Linked DNA regions of Homo sapiens. The protein of the gene in region 1 interacts with the protein of each later gene in a pairwise test. Each region holds a gene or a part of one and is shown in the gene's direction. Other genes may lie near its edges.

Region 1 (5,235 bases):
TTATTTTAAATTTTTATTTATTTATTTTGAGATTAGGATTACAGGTGTGAGCCACCACACCCAGCCTATTTTTATTTATTTATTTATTTTTAGAGATGGGCTTTTGCTCTGTCACCCAGGCTGGAATGCAGTGGCATGATCATAGTTCACTGCAACCTCGAATTCCTGGGCTCAAGCAATCCTACTGCCTCAGCCTCCCAAAGAGCTAGGTCTAACTAGAGGTGTACTCCACCACTCCACCTGATTTAAAAAAAAAAAAATGTTGCCCAGGCTAGTCTTGAACTCCTGGCCTCAAGGGATCCTTCTGCCTGGGCCTCCAAAAATGCAGAGATTACAAGTTGTAAGCCACTGTGCCTGACCGAAAAACCAATTTTTAAATTTTAATTTTAGAATTGTGGTCTTTTAATTTTTTTAGCAAATCGAAATAAAAATACAGTTTCTAAAGAAAAGATTGTGTGAGACATGGTTTTCAATTTTTGTCGTAAGAATGAATGTGTGTGTATATGTGTGTTTGTGTGTGTATGTGTGTGTGTGACGGCCCTCTTTTAAAATTATTACAAAAGTGGCCGGGCGCGGTGGCTCACGCCTGTAATCCCACCACTTTGGGAGGCCAAAGCGGATGGATCATCTGAGGTCAGGAGTTTGAGACCAGCCTGGCCAACATGGTGAAAGCCTGTCTCTACTAAAAATACAAAAATTAGCTGGGTATGGTGGCAGGCGCCTGTAATCCTAGCCACTTGGGAGGCTGAGGCAGGAGAATCTCTTGAACCCGGGAGACGGAGGCTGCAGTCAGCCAAGATCATACCAGTGCACTCCAGTCTGGGTAACAGAGCAAGACTCCATCTCAAAAAATTAGAAAATAATAAAATTATTACAAAATAGTTACTTGTTGAAAAACTCAACAATATAGATAGTAGGTATAAGGGGAAAAGTAAAAGTGCTTCTTCCCACCCCCATTAATTCTTCAAATTCTACCCTTCAAGGTAACCAATATTAAAATTTTTCATTCAGTAAATTTTCTAGGCCTATCTTTCTATGTATATATGTATATATGTTCATATACACATACTTTAAAGGCATATCAAATTTAAAAGTGTAGCTTTATATCACACTGAGGTTTTTTTCTTGAAGCAGGTGCTGTATTTACAATTATATAAAAGCACGCAGAAATTGTATTTAGCTCTGAAAATATAGCACAAGCTTTGTAGGGATTCCTTTTTCCCTGAAAATTACTTTTAACATCAAAAGCAAAAGTCATACAGAAATCCCATCCTGATTTTCTCCAGTAGGTAAGGAGTTGGGTCATATCCTTTAAGATTGTTTATGATCTATATATAATCTGTTTTTTAATTTTTAATTAAATTTTTTTTACCGTTATGTGTTTTGAGAGATGGGGGTCTCGCTTTTTTGCCCAGGCTGGCTGTTGCCCTGGCTACACAGTGCGGTGGCATGGTCATAACTCTATGTGGTCTCCCACTCCTGGGCTCAAGCAATCCTTCTGCTTCAGCCTCCCAAGTAGTCAGGACTACAGGGGACTATAGGTGTGCACCACAATACTTGGCTAGTATGATCTATAATCTAGAGCAGTTTCTCAAGAGCAACATATAGACATTTTGGGACAGAGAATTCTTTGTTGTGAGGGGCTCTCCTGTGCATTAGAAGCATCCCTGGCCTCTACCCACTAGATGCCAGTAGAACCCGATTATGATAGCCAAAAATTGTTCAGACGTTGCCAAATGTCTCCTAGGGACAAAATCACTCCTGGTTGAGAGCTACCGGTCTAGAGGCCACTCTTGTCAGGAATGGTAGTTTTGTTATACTCTGTATTCAAACTTAAGGTAAACAAGGTGAGTCACTGCTTTTAATAGCATTTCAGGACTTATGCTTATAACCTGAACAAGGGAGAAATAGAAGGTACTGAAAGGTTTAATATAAAACTAGCATGCACTGCTGTAAATTTTCTATGGTAAATGTATCATTTTGGGGAACTTTCACTTAAAATATATTATTTTTCAAAAAGTTCAGTTGTCCATGAAAATGAATTTTTAAAAAACTTTTATGGGGACTTCCAGTTTGTTCAAAGTAGAAATGCTTTATTCCATAAATTATCATTTGTAGTGATAACATAGGAAATATAACTTTGTATTCTAGTGGGCTAATTTTGGAGACTTTGGAAATGCTTATTGAATAAAAAGAATTATATGTTATTACTGTAACAATTTTTTTTTTTTTTTTTTGAGTCAGAGGAGCCTTGCTCTGTCACCCAGGCTGGAGTGCAGTGGCAGGATCTCGGCTCACTGCAGCCTCCACCTCCTGGGTTCAAGTGATTCTCCTGCCTCAGCCTCCTGAGTAGCTGGGACTACAGGCCCGTGCCACCACGCTCGGCTAATTTTTTGTATTTTTAGTAGAGACGGTGTTTCACTGTGTTACCCAGGATGGTCTCGGTCTCCTGACCTTGTGATCCACCCGCCTCAGCCTCCCAAAGTGCTGGGATTACAGGTGTGAGCCACCGCGCCCAGCCACAATTTTTTGTATGTTGCACAAATATCAACCTTTCACAAGCTTCATGATGTAAAGCCTTAAGACTTTACATATAAAATGATGCATTGATAAGTATATTTATGTGAATGGTGGGGTTGATGCAGAGTTGATTAGTATGGGTGGAGGAAAACTTTTTGGGAAACTTTAAGTATGAGAGGTTTTTGTTGTTATTAGTATATTTTCAATAGATAATTACATTCATATAGTTCATAAGTCAAAGTAATATAAGGGCAGATACAGTGAAGTCTCAATCTCACCCTGCTCCCACATATCTTGCTCTTTATACTTTTAATAAAAGTATTATATAGCCTTTCAGAATTTCTTTATGAAAATACAACTATGTGTATTTTCCCTACTGTTACACAGATGGTAAGATGCTATTTATGTGAAATTTTTAAATGGTAAATTTGAGAAGGATTTAGACTTTTTTAAAAAATTAAAGTGATAAATTATGTTATGAATGAAGGATGGAGGTGAGTTTAAGCACATTCCTTTCTGAGTCTATTTGTTAGTAGAGTGCTGATTGACTAGATGAATTCAAAATCAGTTCTGGCCTTCTGATTCAGTGATCACTAATATAAATAAAATATGTTACTTTAAAGAAAAGCAAAACAGTTTTAAACAGTTTTAGCCTTGAATTGGCAAGTAAACAAAATAAATGACAAGTTTACCAAATTTTTTTTTTTGGCCAAATTTACTTTCTCAGAACTAAAGTTGTAATAAATAAAATCAATTCTTTTTTTAAACCCACTATAAAGGAACTGTTTCAATGTATCTGTCTTCACAGACCTTATTGATCACATTTCCCTCTCCTATTGCTTGTCTATAGAGTCATAGAATCTTGGTGATAATCCTATCTCATCTCATTTTTAGGTAACTGCTACCATTTATTGAATGCTTATTATATACCAGTACCGTACTAGATACTTTCGTTATTTTATTTAATCGTTTCATCACCCCTTTGAGGTAGGTATTATCTACATTTTTATAGATGAATAAGTGTAGGCTCAGAGAGTTTTTAGAGTAATGAATCTAAAAAACAAAAAAATGGTTAAAATGTTATATGGCTAGTGACTGGTAAAGGTGGGATTTGAATGTGATACTGAATTTAGAGCCCATACTGTTATTTTGCTTCAAATTAAGAAATATGTAGTTTTTGGTTACCAAATGCTGTTTTTTAAATAAATCATTGTTTAGTTCCTATTGAAGTTTTCACAGATGTAAAGTAAAATGGAGAAAATAAGCAGGATGTAGTGAATTTCTAATGAAGCTATTTTTTCCCACTTTTTTCTATTTTGACAAATACTCTTCCTACTTTTACAAAATGAATTTTTAAAACTATCTGTACTTAACAGAATATCAACTGGAAACTTCATTTGGGACCCTGGATAAAAGCCTCAGAAGTCTGGGAACTGTTGAGCTAAATGACTTGCCCAGATCACACAGTTAATATGTAGCAGTCAAGACTGAAAAATAGGCCATCTGATTCCCATTCTAGTTATCCTACCTTCCAGATTCTCCTAACTTTCTTTTGATGCATTATATTAATGAGTTTAATTAGTTGCTTATAAATGCCTCTTTCAAACTATTATAGTTTATAATCCATAGTTGATCTTGTTGGAAAAGTTTTTTTTTTTTTTTGGCTGTTTTTTTTTTGGTTTGTTTGAGAACGGAGTCTCACTCTGTTGCCCAGGCTGGAGTGTAATGGTGCAATCTTGGCTCACTGCAACCTCTGCCTCCCGAGTTCAAGCAATTCTCCTGCCTCAGCCTCCTGAGTAGCTGGGATTATAGGCGGCCACCACCATACCCAGCTAATTTTTTTTTGTATTTTTAGTAGAGATGGGGTTTCACCATGTTGGCCAGGCTGGTCTCGAACTCCTGACCTCAGACTATCTGCCCACCTCAGCCTCCCAAAGTGCTGGGATTATAGGCTTGAGCCACTGTGCCTGGCCTTTTTTTAAATTTTTTTTTTTTTGAGACAGGGTCCCGTTATGTCACCCAAGCTGGAGTGCGGTGGTGCAGGAGTGCAGTGGCTCACGATCGTATGGCGCAATCACGGCTCAGGCAGCCTTGACCTTCTGGGCTCAAGCGATCCTCCCCTTTCAGCCTCCCAAGTGTCTGGGACCACAGGCGCACACCACCGTACCCTGCTAATTTTTAAATTAAATTTAATTAATTAATTTTTTCCGACACACAGTCTTAGTTGCCCAGGCTGGAGTGCAGTGGCGGATCTCAGCTCACTGCAACCTCCGCCTCCTGGGTTCAGGCAATTCTCCTGCCTTAGCCTCCCAAGTAGCTAGGATTACAGGTGCGTGCCACCATGCCCCGCTAATTTGTTGTATTTTTAGTAGAGATGGGGTTTCACCATGTTGACCACGCTGGTCTCAAACTCCTGACCTTGTGATCTGCCCACCTCCCAAAGTGCTGCGATTACAGGCGTGAGCCACCGTGCCCGGCTATTTTTTTTGTAGTTACAAGGTCTCATTATGTTGTCCAGGCTGGTCTCAAACTCCTGAGCTCAAGGGATCCTCCTGCAGTGGCCTCCCAGAGGGCCAAGATTACAGGCATGAGCTACCACGCCTGGCCGGAAAAGTTTTATATTTTTTAATGAAATTACTGTCATGTAGATCAGCATAAGAGAGTGTACCACTAGAGTATAGGGGGAGCACTATTCTAAAGAAATTTTGTAATGAA
Region 2 (3,500 bases), on another chromosome or scaffold:
CATTTATGATTTTGTGTTTCTCGTGACAGCATGAGCAGAGATCATTAAAAATTAAACTTACAAAGCTGCTAAAGTGGGAAGAAGGAGAACTTGAAGCCACAATTTTTGCACTTGCTTAGAAGCCATCTAATCTCAGGTTTATATGCTAGATCTTGGGGGAAACACTGCATGTCTCTGGTTTATATTAAACCACATACAGCACACTACTGACACTGATTTGTGTCTGGTGCAGCTGGAGTTTATCACCAAGACATAAAAAAACCTTGACCCTGCAGAATGGCCTGGAATTACAATCAGATGGGCCACATGGCATCCCGGTGAAAGAAAGCCCTAACCAGTTTTCTGTCTTGTTTCTGCTTTCTCCCTACAGTTCCACCAGGTGAGAAGAGTGATGACCATCCTTTTCCTTACTATGGTTATTTCATACTTTGGTTGCATGAAGGCTGCCCCCATGAAAGAAGCAAACATCCGAGGACAAGGTGGCTTGGCCTACCCAGGTGTGCGGACCCATGGGACTCTGGAGAGCGTGAATGGGCCCAAGGCAGGTTCAAGAGGCTTGACATCATTGGCTGACACTTTCGAACACGTGATAGAAGAGCTGTTGGATGAGGACCAGAAAGTTCGGCCCAATGAAGAAAACAATAAGGACGCAGACTTGTACACGTCCAGGGTGATGCTCAGTAGTCAAGTGCCTTTGGAGCCTCCTCTTCTCTTTCTGCTGGAGGAATACAAAAATTACCTAGATGCTGCAAACATGTCCATGAGGGTCCGGCGCCACTCTGACCCTGCCCGCCGAGGGGAGCTGAGCGTGTGTGACAGTATTAGTGAGTGGGTAACGGCGGCAGACAAAAAGACTGCAGTGGACATGTCGGGCGGGACGGTCACAGTCCTTGAAAAGGTCCCTGTATCAAAAGGCCAACTGAAGCAATACTTCTACGAGACCAAGTGCAATCCCATGGGTTACACAAAAGAAGGCTGCAGGGGCATAGACAAAAGGCATTGGAACTCCCAGTGCCGAACTACCCAGTCGTACGTGCGGGCCCTTACCATGGATAGCAAAAAGAGAATTGGCTGGCGATTCATAAGGATAGACACTTCTTGTGTATGTACATTGACCATTAAAAGGGGAAGATAGTGGATTTATGTTGTATAGATTAGATTATATTGAGACAAAAATTATCTATTTGTATATATACATAACAGGGTAAATTATTCAGTTAAGAAAAAAATAATTTTATGAACTGCATGTATAAATGAAGTTTATACAGTACAGTGGTTCTACAATCTATTTATTGGACATGTCCATGACCAGAAGGGAAACAGTCATTTGCGCACAACTTAAAAAGTCTGCATTACATTCCTTGATAATGTTGTGGTTTGTTGCCGTTGCCAAGAACTGAAAACATAAAAAGTTAAAAAAAATAATAAATTGCATGCTGCTTTAATTGTGAATTGATAATAAACTGTCCTCTTTCAGAAAACAGAAAAAAAACACACACACACACAACAAAAATTTGAACCAAAACATTCCGTTTACATTTTAGACAGTAAGTATCTTCGTTCTTGTTAGTACTATATCTGTTTTACTGCTTTTAACTTCTGATAGCGTTGGAATTAAAACAATGTCAAGGTGCTGTTGTCATTGCTTTACTGGCTTAGGGGATGGGGGATGGGGGGTATATTTTTGTTTGTTTTGTGTTTTTTTTTCGTTTGTTTGTTTTGTTTTTTAGTTCCCACAGGGAGTAGAGATGGGGAAAGAATTCCTACAATATATATTCTGGCTGATAAAAGATACATTTGTATGTTGTGAAGATGTTTGCAATATCGATCAGATGACTAGAAAGTGAATAAAAATTAAGGCAACTGAACAAAAAAATGCTCACACTCCACATCCCGTGATGCACCTCCCAGGCCCCGCTCATTCTTTGGGCGTTGGTCAGAGTAAGCTGCTTTTGACGGAAGGACCTATGTTTGCTCAGAACACATTCTTTCCCCCCCTCCCCCTCTGGTCTCCTCTTTGTTTTGTTTTAAGGAAGAAAAATCAGTTGCGCGTTCTGAAATATTTTACCACTGCTGTGAACAAGTGAACACATTGTGTCACATCATGACACTCGTATAAGCATGGAGAACAGTGATTTTTTTTTAGAACAGAAAACAACAAAAAATAACCCCAAAATGAAGATTATTTTTTATGAGGAGTGAACATTTGGGTAAATCATGGCTAAGCTTAAAAAAAACTCATGGTGAGGCTTAACAATGTCTTGTAAGCAAAAGGTAGAGCCCTGTATCAACCCAGAAACACCTAGATCAGAACAGGAATCCACATTGCCAGTGACATGAGACTGAACAGCCAAATGGAGGCTATGTGGAGTTGGCATTGCATTTACCGGCAGTGCGGGAGGAATTTCTGAGTGGCCATCCCAAGGTCTAGGTGGAGGTGGGGCATGGTATTTGAGACATTCCAAAACGAAGGCCTCTGAAGGACCCTTCAGAGGTGGCTCTGGAATGACATGTGTCAAGCTGCTTGGACCTCGTGCTTTAAGTGCCTACATTATCTAACTGTGCTCAAGAGGTTCTCGACTGGAGGACCACACTCAAGCCGACTTATGCCCACCATCCCACCTCTGGATAATTTTGCATAAAATTGGATTAGCCTGGAGCAGGTTGGGAGCCAAATGTGGCATTTGTGATCATGAGATTGATGCAATGAGATAGAAGATGTTTGCTACCTGAACACTTATTGCTTTGAAACTAGACTTGAGGAAACCAGGGTTTATCTTTTGAGAACTTTTGGTAAGGGAAAAGGGAACAGGAAAAGAAACCCCAAACTCAGGCCGAATGATCAAGGGGACCCATAGGAAATCTTGTCCAGAGACAAGACTTCGGGAAGGTGTCTGGACATTCAGAACACCAAGACTTGAAGGTGCCTTGCTCAATGGAAGAGGCCAGGACAGAGCTGACAAAATTTTGCTCCCCAGTGAAGGCCACAGCAACCTTCTGCCCATCCTGTCTGTTCATGGAGAGGGTCCCTGCCTCACCTCTGCCATTTTGGGTTAGGAGAAGTCAAGTTGGGAGCCTGAAATAGTGGTTCTTGGAAAAATGGATCCCCAGTGAAAACTAGAGCTCTAAGCCCATTCAGCCCATTTCACACCTGAAAATGTTAGTGATCACCACTTGGACCAGCATCCTTAAGTATCAGAAAGCCCCAAGCAATTGCTGCATCTTAGTAGGGTGAGGGATAAGCAAAAGAGGATGTTCACCATAACCCAGGAATGAAGATACCATCAGCAAAGAATTTCAATTTGTTCAGTCTTTCATTTAGAGCTAGTCTTTCACAGTACCATCTGAATACCTCTTTGAAAGAAGGAAGACTTTACGTAGTGTAGATTTGTTTTGTGTTGTTTGAAAATATTATCTTTGTAATTATTTTTAATATGTAAGGAATGCTTGGAATATCTGCTGTATGTCAACTTTATGCAGCTTCCTTTTGAGGGACAAAT
Region 3 (3,500 bases), on another chromosome or scaffold:
ACCCCAAGAGGCCAGGCATCACTGGCCTGTGTGATCCTCATAGGCCAGTCCATCTCTGGAATTCTTGAATGGATCATCCATCCTTGATTAGGGATGTCCCCGTGATTACCAGGGTGTGCAGAAGGGCTCTGGGAAACCTGTGGGTCTGTCTCTGTGTTCAGAGAAAGGTGAGGGTGGCCTGGTTCTAGCTCATGGTGCTCAGACTGTGGTGTGTAAAGGCACTCGTGGCAATGCAGATTCCTGGGCCTGCCTCTAGTGATTCCCATTCAGTAGGTTTGGGGTGGGGCCCAGGAAATCTATATTTTTCACAGACACCCCTGGTGATTCTGATACAAGTGGTCTCGCCCTGGGAGAACTACTGGTCTGCAGCAACCAGCTTGGTTTTCCATTAGCAATTACTGTCCTTGAGCGAGTTTTACTGCTCTTCACCTTACACACACTAAAACTGCCAAGGCCGTAGGGGAGGGGAAGCAACCATGAGGTTGCTGTGAGTGCACTGTGTGTGTGTGTGTGTGTGTGTGTGTGTGTGTGTGTGTGTATGAGAGAGAGAGAGAGATTGAGAAAGAGAGGAAGGGAGGAAGGGGGAGGGCACAGGCTCCTCTCCCACAGTGCCAACCTGCCTCTCTCCCACTTGAAGTGTTTCCATGCCAACTGAAATCCTCAGCCTCTAGGAAACCCTATATACACAGTGCCCCTATATAGGTTTCTTTAGACTCTGGCTCTCTCAGACTCTAGAGTGATGGCTTTAAAAGTTTTTTGAATGTTACCCACAATGATTGAGAAAGAGAGAGAGAGAGCACGCACCACCATGTAAACATGGAACCTAAGTTTCACAAAATGACTTCGCTTTATGAACTCTGAGACACTCTGCTCTCTTCTGTTCTGTTCTATTTCCATTTTAGAAATGCTGCTCAGGACCTTCAAAATGATTTGCATGACCTGCAACCTGCAGTCTGAAAAATCACTGCACTACAGAAGTGGCCATAAGAGGCCCTGAGGGAGAAGCTGCACAATGTCATGGTTAAGAGTGGGGTTTGGAGCCAAGCCGCCTAGGCTCAAAGCCTTTATGTGCCGTACAACCTTGGCAAAGTCACTTCGCTTGTCTGTGCCTCAGTTTCTTTCTCACGAATGCTCATAATAATGGTTCCCATTTCACTGGCTTGTTGTGAGGATGAAATAGTGTTATTATTGAGAAGTGGTAAGGGTAGTGATCAGTGCTAGCGATCATGATTCTAGGTGACTTTTACTGTGTACCGGGTGCTCACAAGGCTTTATGTGCACAGCCTGGTGAGGCTGATAATACTATTGTTCCCTCTTTTTTTTTTTTTGAGACGGAGTCTCGTTCTGTTGCCCAGGCAGGGGGTACAGTGGCACAATCTCGGCTCATGCAAGCTCTGCCTCCCGGGTTCACGCCATTCTCCTGCCTCAGCCTCCCAAGTAGCTGGGACTACAGGCGCCTGCCACCACGCCCGGCTAATTTTTTTGTATTTTTGGTAGCGACAGGGTTTCACTGTGTTAACCAGGATGGTCTCGATCTCCTGACCTCGTGATCCGCCCGCCTCGGCCTCCCAAAGTGCTGGGATTACAGGCGTGAGCCACCGTGCCCGGCCTGTTCCCTCTTTTATAGATGAAGAGACCAGCAAATAACTAGTAAGTCGCTGATCAGGATCACAATATCCAGCTGAGGCACTCCAGAGCCTGAGCTGTTAACCATTCAGTCAGGGCCTCCCAAGTTTGCCTAAAGATAAAGAATCATGTGCACAGTTGTTAAAATATACAGATTCCTGGGCCCCACCCCGCAGATACTTGATTGCCAGCTCCAGGGTATGGGCCTGAGAATCTGTCTTTTAGGGAAGCTTTCAGATGATGTTGTGATCAGGTGAGTTTTGGGAATGGTGCCCCAAGAGGAGTGGCAGACAGGGCTTGCTCGGCAGGGACTAGCCTGTTGGAGTGGTGCCATTGGGGTTAAGGACTGGGCAGCAGGGCCTCACTAACCACAGCCTATATGCCTGTTTCTGAAGTTTTGGCCACTCTCATCCAGCTGGTCTACTGTCTGCTGACCTAGATGATGGTAAATTGTCCCCAGGGGTAGCCTGTCTAGTTCAGGCTGCACCTTTCGCATATATCAGCTCCTTTCCACCATCATCCCCTTTGTGAGGCTGCTGTGATTATCATGTTCCTTTTGCAGAGATGGAAACATTGCCTCAAATTAGCTCTGTCATTTCCTAAGGATTCCAGGGTTCTTTAGTAGGGGGTCTGGATCCTACGTCCTGGGCCATCCCCATCATAGTGCACCACGTCACCTCCCTGGCCAGGGACCGTGGGGTCTCCACTTTTTTGGGGTGCTCCATCTATGCAGGGTTTCCTGGAAGCACAGATGCTGGCACTTCAGGGATGAATGAAAGTCTTTTTGGGGGATTTGTAGATTTTTTTCTTGTCTTACTAGCTCCATTTTCAAATGTATTTATTTTGTCTCTTTAGTTTGCGCGATAACAATATCTCAGACCGAGGCATCTGCAAGCTCATTGAATGTGCTCTTCACTGCGAGCAATTGCAGAAGTTAGCGTAAGTCAGCCTGGGCTGTGGACAATGGGCTCCAAGTGCCCTGGTCTCACCCCAGGTCGTGCAGCCTGGGAAGCTGTGAGTGATGGGCTGGGGCAGGGGCTGTTTGCATGATGGGGGGTGCAGGTGATTCCTGCCCAGAGGGGAAGGGCAACCCTGGGATTTGGTGCTCACTGTCCAATGTGCTTTGCTTCTGTGTCTCCTCTCTTCTGGAACTGAACAGTCTATTCAACAACAAATTGACTGACGGCTGTGCACACTCCATGGCTAAGCTCCTTGCATGCAGGCAGAACTTCTTGGCATTGAGGTGAGCCCAGGTTTTCCTTATTCCCTGGAAACTATTTTTTGCCCCATTCCTGAGTCAGTCTGATCTGGTCTTGGCCTGGCACTGCCCACACTGGCTCCTGACCTCCTGATTGAATGCAGGGACAGTGTCTCATTTTAAGCAGGGGTTCTCTAATGCTGTGATCTCCCCAGTAAACTCTGGACTAGCTCTGCTGAGGACTTCCTGTCTTTTGACCTTTAGCCCGTAGGGCAAGAAAGCTTTTCTAGGCCCCTTTCCTTTTCTGTGTCTAAGAGTGTCACAGCTTTCTGGGTTTACTGAGTTCCACGATGCATGTTGAGCTCGTCCTGGTGGGGGAGGCATACACAGTTACTTGCCACCCCAGCTGTGGCAGCGAGTTGCTGCAACACTCCCAGGAGGTCCTTTCACCACTCAGAGCATGCAAGGTTTGCAGTCCATCTGGTTCTGCATTTCTGCTACTCCAGTGTCTCCCAGTTTCAACAGGAGTCTCTCTCTCTCCTACCTGATGCCTTTAAATTGCCCCTCTAGCTGGCCGCTGGGTTGGCCTGGCTTCTCTCTCCTTCTCTCTCTCTCAGATATTCTTGCCTCCTGTGATTTGTGAGGCAGTAAAAAAAGACAAAGTAAAGAATTGCTT
Region 4 (3,500 bases), on another chromosome or scaffold:
TTTTCATAACATATTTTCTAAGAACTAAAGAGAGGGGTTTTTTTTTTTTTCTATCTTTTGAGATGGAGTCTCACTCACTCTGTTGCCCGGGCTAGAGTTTAATGGCAGCGATGTCAGTTCACTGCAATGTCCTCCTCCTGAGTTCAAGCGATTCTCCTGCCTCAGCTTCCAAGATATCTGAGATTAAAGGCATTTGGCACCATGCTTGGCTAATTTTTGTATTTTTAATAGGGATGGAGTTTCACCATGTTGGCCAGGCTGGTATTGAACTCCTGACCTCAAGTGATCTGCCCGCCTCAGCCTCACAAGGTGCTGGGATTACAGAAGTGAGCCACCACACCCAGCCTTTTTTTTTTTTTTTTTTCCCTTAAGAGACGTGGTCTTTCTGTTGCCCAGGCTAGGGTGATGCAATCATGGCTCACTGCAGCCTCCAGCTCCTGGGCTCAAGCAGTCCTCCTTTCTCAGCCTCACAAGTAGCTGGGACTACACATACCACCATGCCCAGCTAATTTTTTAAAGTTTTTCTAGAGACAGGGTCTCTTTGTGTTGGCCAGGCTGATCTTGAACTCCTAGCCGCAGGCAGTCCTCCCATCTCAGCCTCCCAAAGTGCTGGGATTACAAGGGCATGAACCATTATGTCCAATAGCAGGAAAATTTTTATGTAAAGCAATTTATTTTTATTTTTATTATTAATTTCTGTTACAGAATCTTCATTCCTGCCTTTACCAGTTTGCAAGGGCTGCCATAAGAAAGTATTACATAACAATATAGCAATGTATTTTCTTACCATTCTGGAGGCTAGAAGTGCAAGATCAGGGTGTCAGCAGGGTTGGTTTCTTCTGATGTCTTTTTTGTTGGCTTGTAGATGGTCATGCTCTGTGTCTTCACATGGGCCTCCCTCTGTATGTGTCTGTATCCACATTCCCTTTTCTTATAAGGACACCACTCCAATTGGATTAAGGCCCACCCTCATGACATCACTTTAATTACCTTTTTAAAGACCTTATCTTTAAAAACAGTGACATTTTGAGGTACTGAGGGTTAGAACTTCAACATACGGGTTGGAGACTGAGCACAACTCAGTCTATGACTCTGCCCCTTCCCACTGATAACTGTAATCAGTTCATCACTTTTTATCTAGACTGTGGCAGCCCCCCACCCCCAATTCTCTGCCTTTTTTCTTTCACCACTATTGTGTAAAGCAGTTTTTATTACCAAGTAGAAATGATTCTTGGACATTGGAGACAGCTGAATTTTGAAGTTGTTTAACTTTTAAATGGAAGAGAGTTATGAATTTTTGTTTCAAGGTAGGTCACTACCATTCTCTTAAGAGTAACACAGTAATTCAGTGTTTCAGAATATTGGCTTCCCCTTATTGATGATATATTTTTTGTCATTCTCTTTAGTATTAAAAACAATATATTTGTATAGGTTTTATTACAAAAGTAATATATGTTTATTATTGGGGCACAAGGAAACTTTTGGGGGTTTTGGATATATGTGTTGACTATCTTGATTGTGGTGATGATTTCATGAGAATATAAGTGCATATATCAAAACTTACCAAATTGTATACTGTAAATAAATAAGTGCTGTTTATCATATGACAGTTATATCATAATAAAACTGCTTAATTTTTTTGCTGATTTGATGACTAAAGACTTGGACTTACTTTGATGTTAATGTGAATTTTCGTGACAGTTAGTGAGGTTGAGCATTTTTATTAGTTGTTTGTATTTCATTTTCAATGAATTGTTCAGATACACAGTTTGCCTGTTTTTCTCTTGGGATGTGTGTGTGTTTGTGTGTACATGTGTGTCTGTCTTGTCAACTTGGTTAACCCACTCTGGGACTAGTGATAATAACCCAGCATCTCTCTTACCTTTTGCTAATATTTTCTCCTAGTTGATTTTTCTTTTTTGTTTTTCGTATTTTTTAGGGACAGAGTCTCTCTCTGTGGTATAGGCTGTAGTGGCTTGTGGTCCAAAGTGGGCTCTCCACCTACTTTTAATTTAAAGGAAAGATTTTTGCCCCTTTGGCATCTAGTCCACTTAAATATGGTTGTGGGCCTGTCTAGTAACTACACATTAACAAAAGTGAGTGTGTGTGTGTGTGTGTGTGTGTGTGTGTGTGTGTCTGTCCACATACATATATCTATGTGTGTATGTGTAATAATATTTTCTCCAATCCTGGAGCAATAAGCATTCCATTTTACCTATGCAGTGAGAGAATATTCAGAGAATTCCATATACTCACTTTAAAAATAGTTACGTAACAAGGATTCAAAGTCACTTTTTCTTTCTCTTGTTGTTTGTTTTAGGGTAACCAGGAGCCGACAACAACTCCTGACGCAATGGTTCAGCCTTTTACTACCATCCCATTTCCACCACCTCCGCAGAATGGAATTCCCACAGAGTATGGGGTGCCACACACTCAAGACTATGCCGGCCAGACCGGTGAGCATAACCTGACACTCTACGGAAGTACGCAAGCCCACGGGGAGCAGAGCAGCAACTCACCCAGCACACAAAATGGATCTCTTACGGTACGTGGACCATGAGGTGAAAAATGGAAGGATGCATGGCAATCATATAGAAATTGTCGCCTTAATTATACAATTAGAAGACTCTCGGAATTAATTTAGCATTTACACCTGTTCTCATTTACACCTTCTCTCAACAGCATTGTATACATTGTCCTCCCTCCTCCTAGAAATACTTAGTCTCTTGGCTTTTCGAGCTCTCCCAATTTTCCTGCCAAGCACTGGGTGTTCTGCTCCTGCCTCCTTCTCTGTTCAACTTTTAAATGGTGCAGTACTCCATATGTAGGTCCTGGAACCCCTTTTCTTTTTATTTTATATCCTTTCTCTGCATAATTATACTACCAAACTCAAGCAAAACCTAGGAATATTCTTTCTTTCTTTCTTTCATCTGTACATCTAATTGATTAGCAAGTCTTGACAACCATAACTCTAAAACTACTTCGTCTTCTTCTCTACATCTTATTACTCTTCCACCAAATTGCTTGTGTTTGAATCTCAATATGGCCCCTACTAAACTGTGTGACCTTGGACCAGTTATTTAATCTCTCTGCCCTTGGCTCACTCTAAAATGAAGATAATAGTACCTACCTGAAGAGGCTGTTAGGAAATTTAAAAGAATTTATCATCATCACTGCTCTAGTCCAAACCTCATCACTTATTTCCGGTATTACTGTTGCCTAACTTATCTATCCTCCACATAGGACTAAGGTGGTTTTTTTTTTTTTTTAATGCAAATGCCGATTTCCTACTTAACTCTTAATAGTTCCCTAATGCAATTAGAATATAATCTGAACTCCGTACTTGGTTTACTAGTCTCTAGCCCCAGCTTACCTCTTTGACTTCACCTCTTACTACTAACTTGCTAAAGTAAAGGAAATGTCATAAATTAATAATAGGTATATATCTCATACATACCAACATATGGGAAATTGTATTGTCTCTTGCTTTGTTGTCCAGG

What was found.
Region 2: the proteins of ANKHD1 (region 1) and BDNF interact in binary tests that used the Homo sapiens proteins (3 or more experiments, as listed by UniProt).
Region 3: the proteins of ANKHD1 (region 1) and NOD2 interact in binary tests that used the Homo sapiens proteins (3 or more experiments, as listed by UniProt).
Region 4: the proteins of ANKHD1 (region 1) and RBFOX2 interact in a two-hybrid assay, tested with the Homo sapiens proteins (one large-scale study listed by BioGRID).

What each region holds. Positions count from the first base shown.
Region 1 is NC_000005.10:140,407,331-140,412,565, forward strand, and holds part of ANKHD1 (ankyrin repeat and KH domain-containing protein 1), read left to right. Parts: intron 1-5,235. UniProt on the Homo sapiens protein: May play a role as a scaffolding protein that may be associated with the abnormal phenotype of leukemia cells. Isoform 2 may possess an antiapoptotic effect and protect cells during normal cell survival through its regulation of caspases.
Region 2 is NC_000011.10:27,655,456-27,658,955, reverse strand, and holds part of BDNF (neurotrophic factor BDNF precursor form isoform a preproprotein), read left to right. Parts: exon of another isoform or gene 1-370; coding exon of another isoform or gene 371-391; coding exon 392-1,135; 3' UTR 1,136-3,500. UniProt on the Homo sapiens protein: Important signaling molecule that activates signaling cascades downstream of NTRK2. During development, promotes the survival and differentiation of selected neuronal populations of the peripheral and central nervous systems.
Region 3 is NC_000016.10:50,714,106-50,717,605, forward strand, and holds part of NOD2 (nucleotide-binding oligomerization domain-containing protein 2), read left to right. Parts: intron 1-902; coding exon of another isoform or gene 903-903; exon of another isoform or gene 904-1,376; intron 1,377-1,503; exon of another isoform or gene 1,504-1,650; intron 1,651-2,481; coding exon 2,482-2,565; intron 2,566-2,785; coding exon 2,786-2,869; intron 2,870-3,500. UniProt on the Homo sapiens protein: Pattern recognition receptor (PRR) that detects bacterial peptidoglycan fragments and other danger signals and plays an important role in gastrointestinal immunity.
Region 4 is NC_000022.11:35,808,825-35,812,324, reverse strand, and holds part of RBFOX2 (RNA binding protein fox-1 homolog 2), read left to right. Parts: intron 1-2,320; coding exon 2,321-2,545; intron 2,546-3,500. UniProt on the Homo sapiens protein: RNA-binding protein that regulates alternative splicing events by binding to 5'-UGCAUGU-3' elements. Prevents binding of U2AF2 to the 3'-splice site.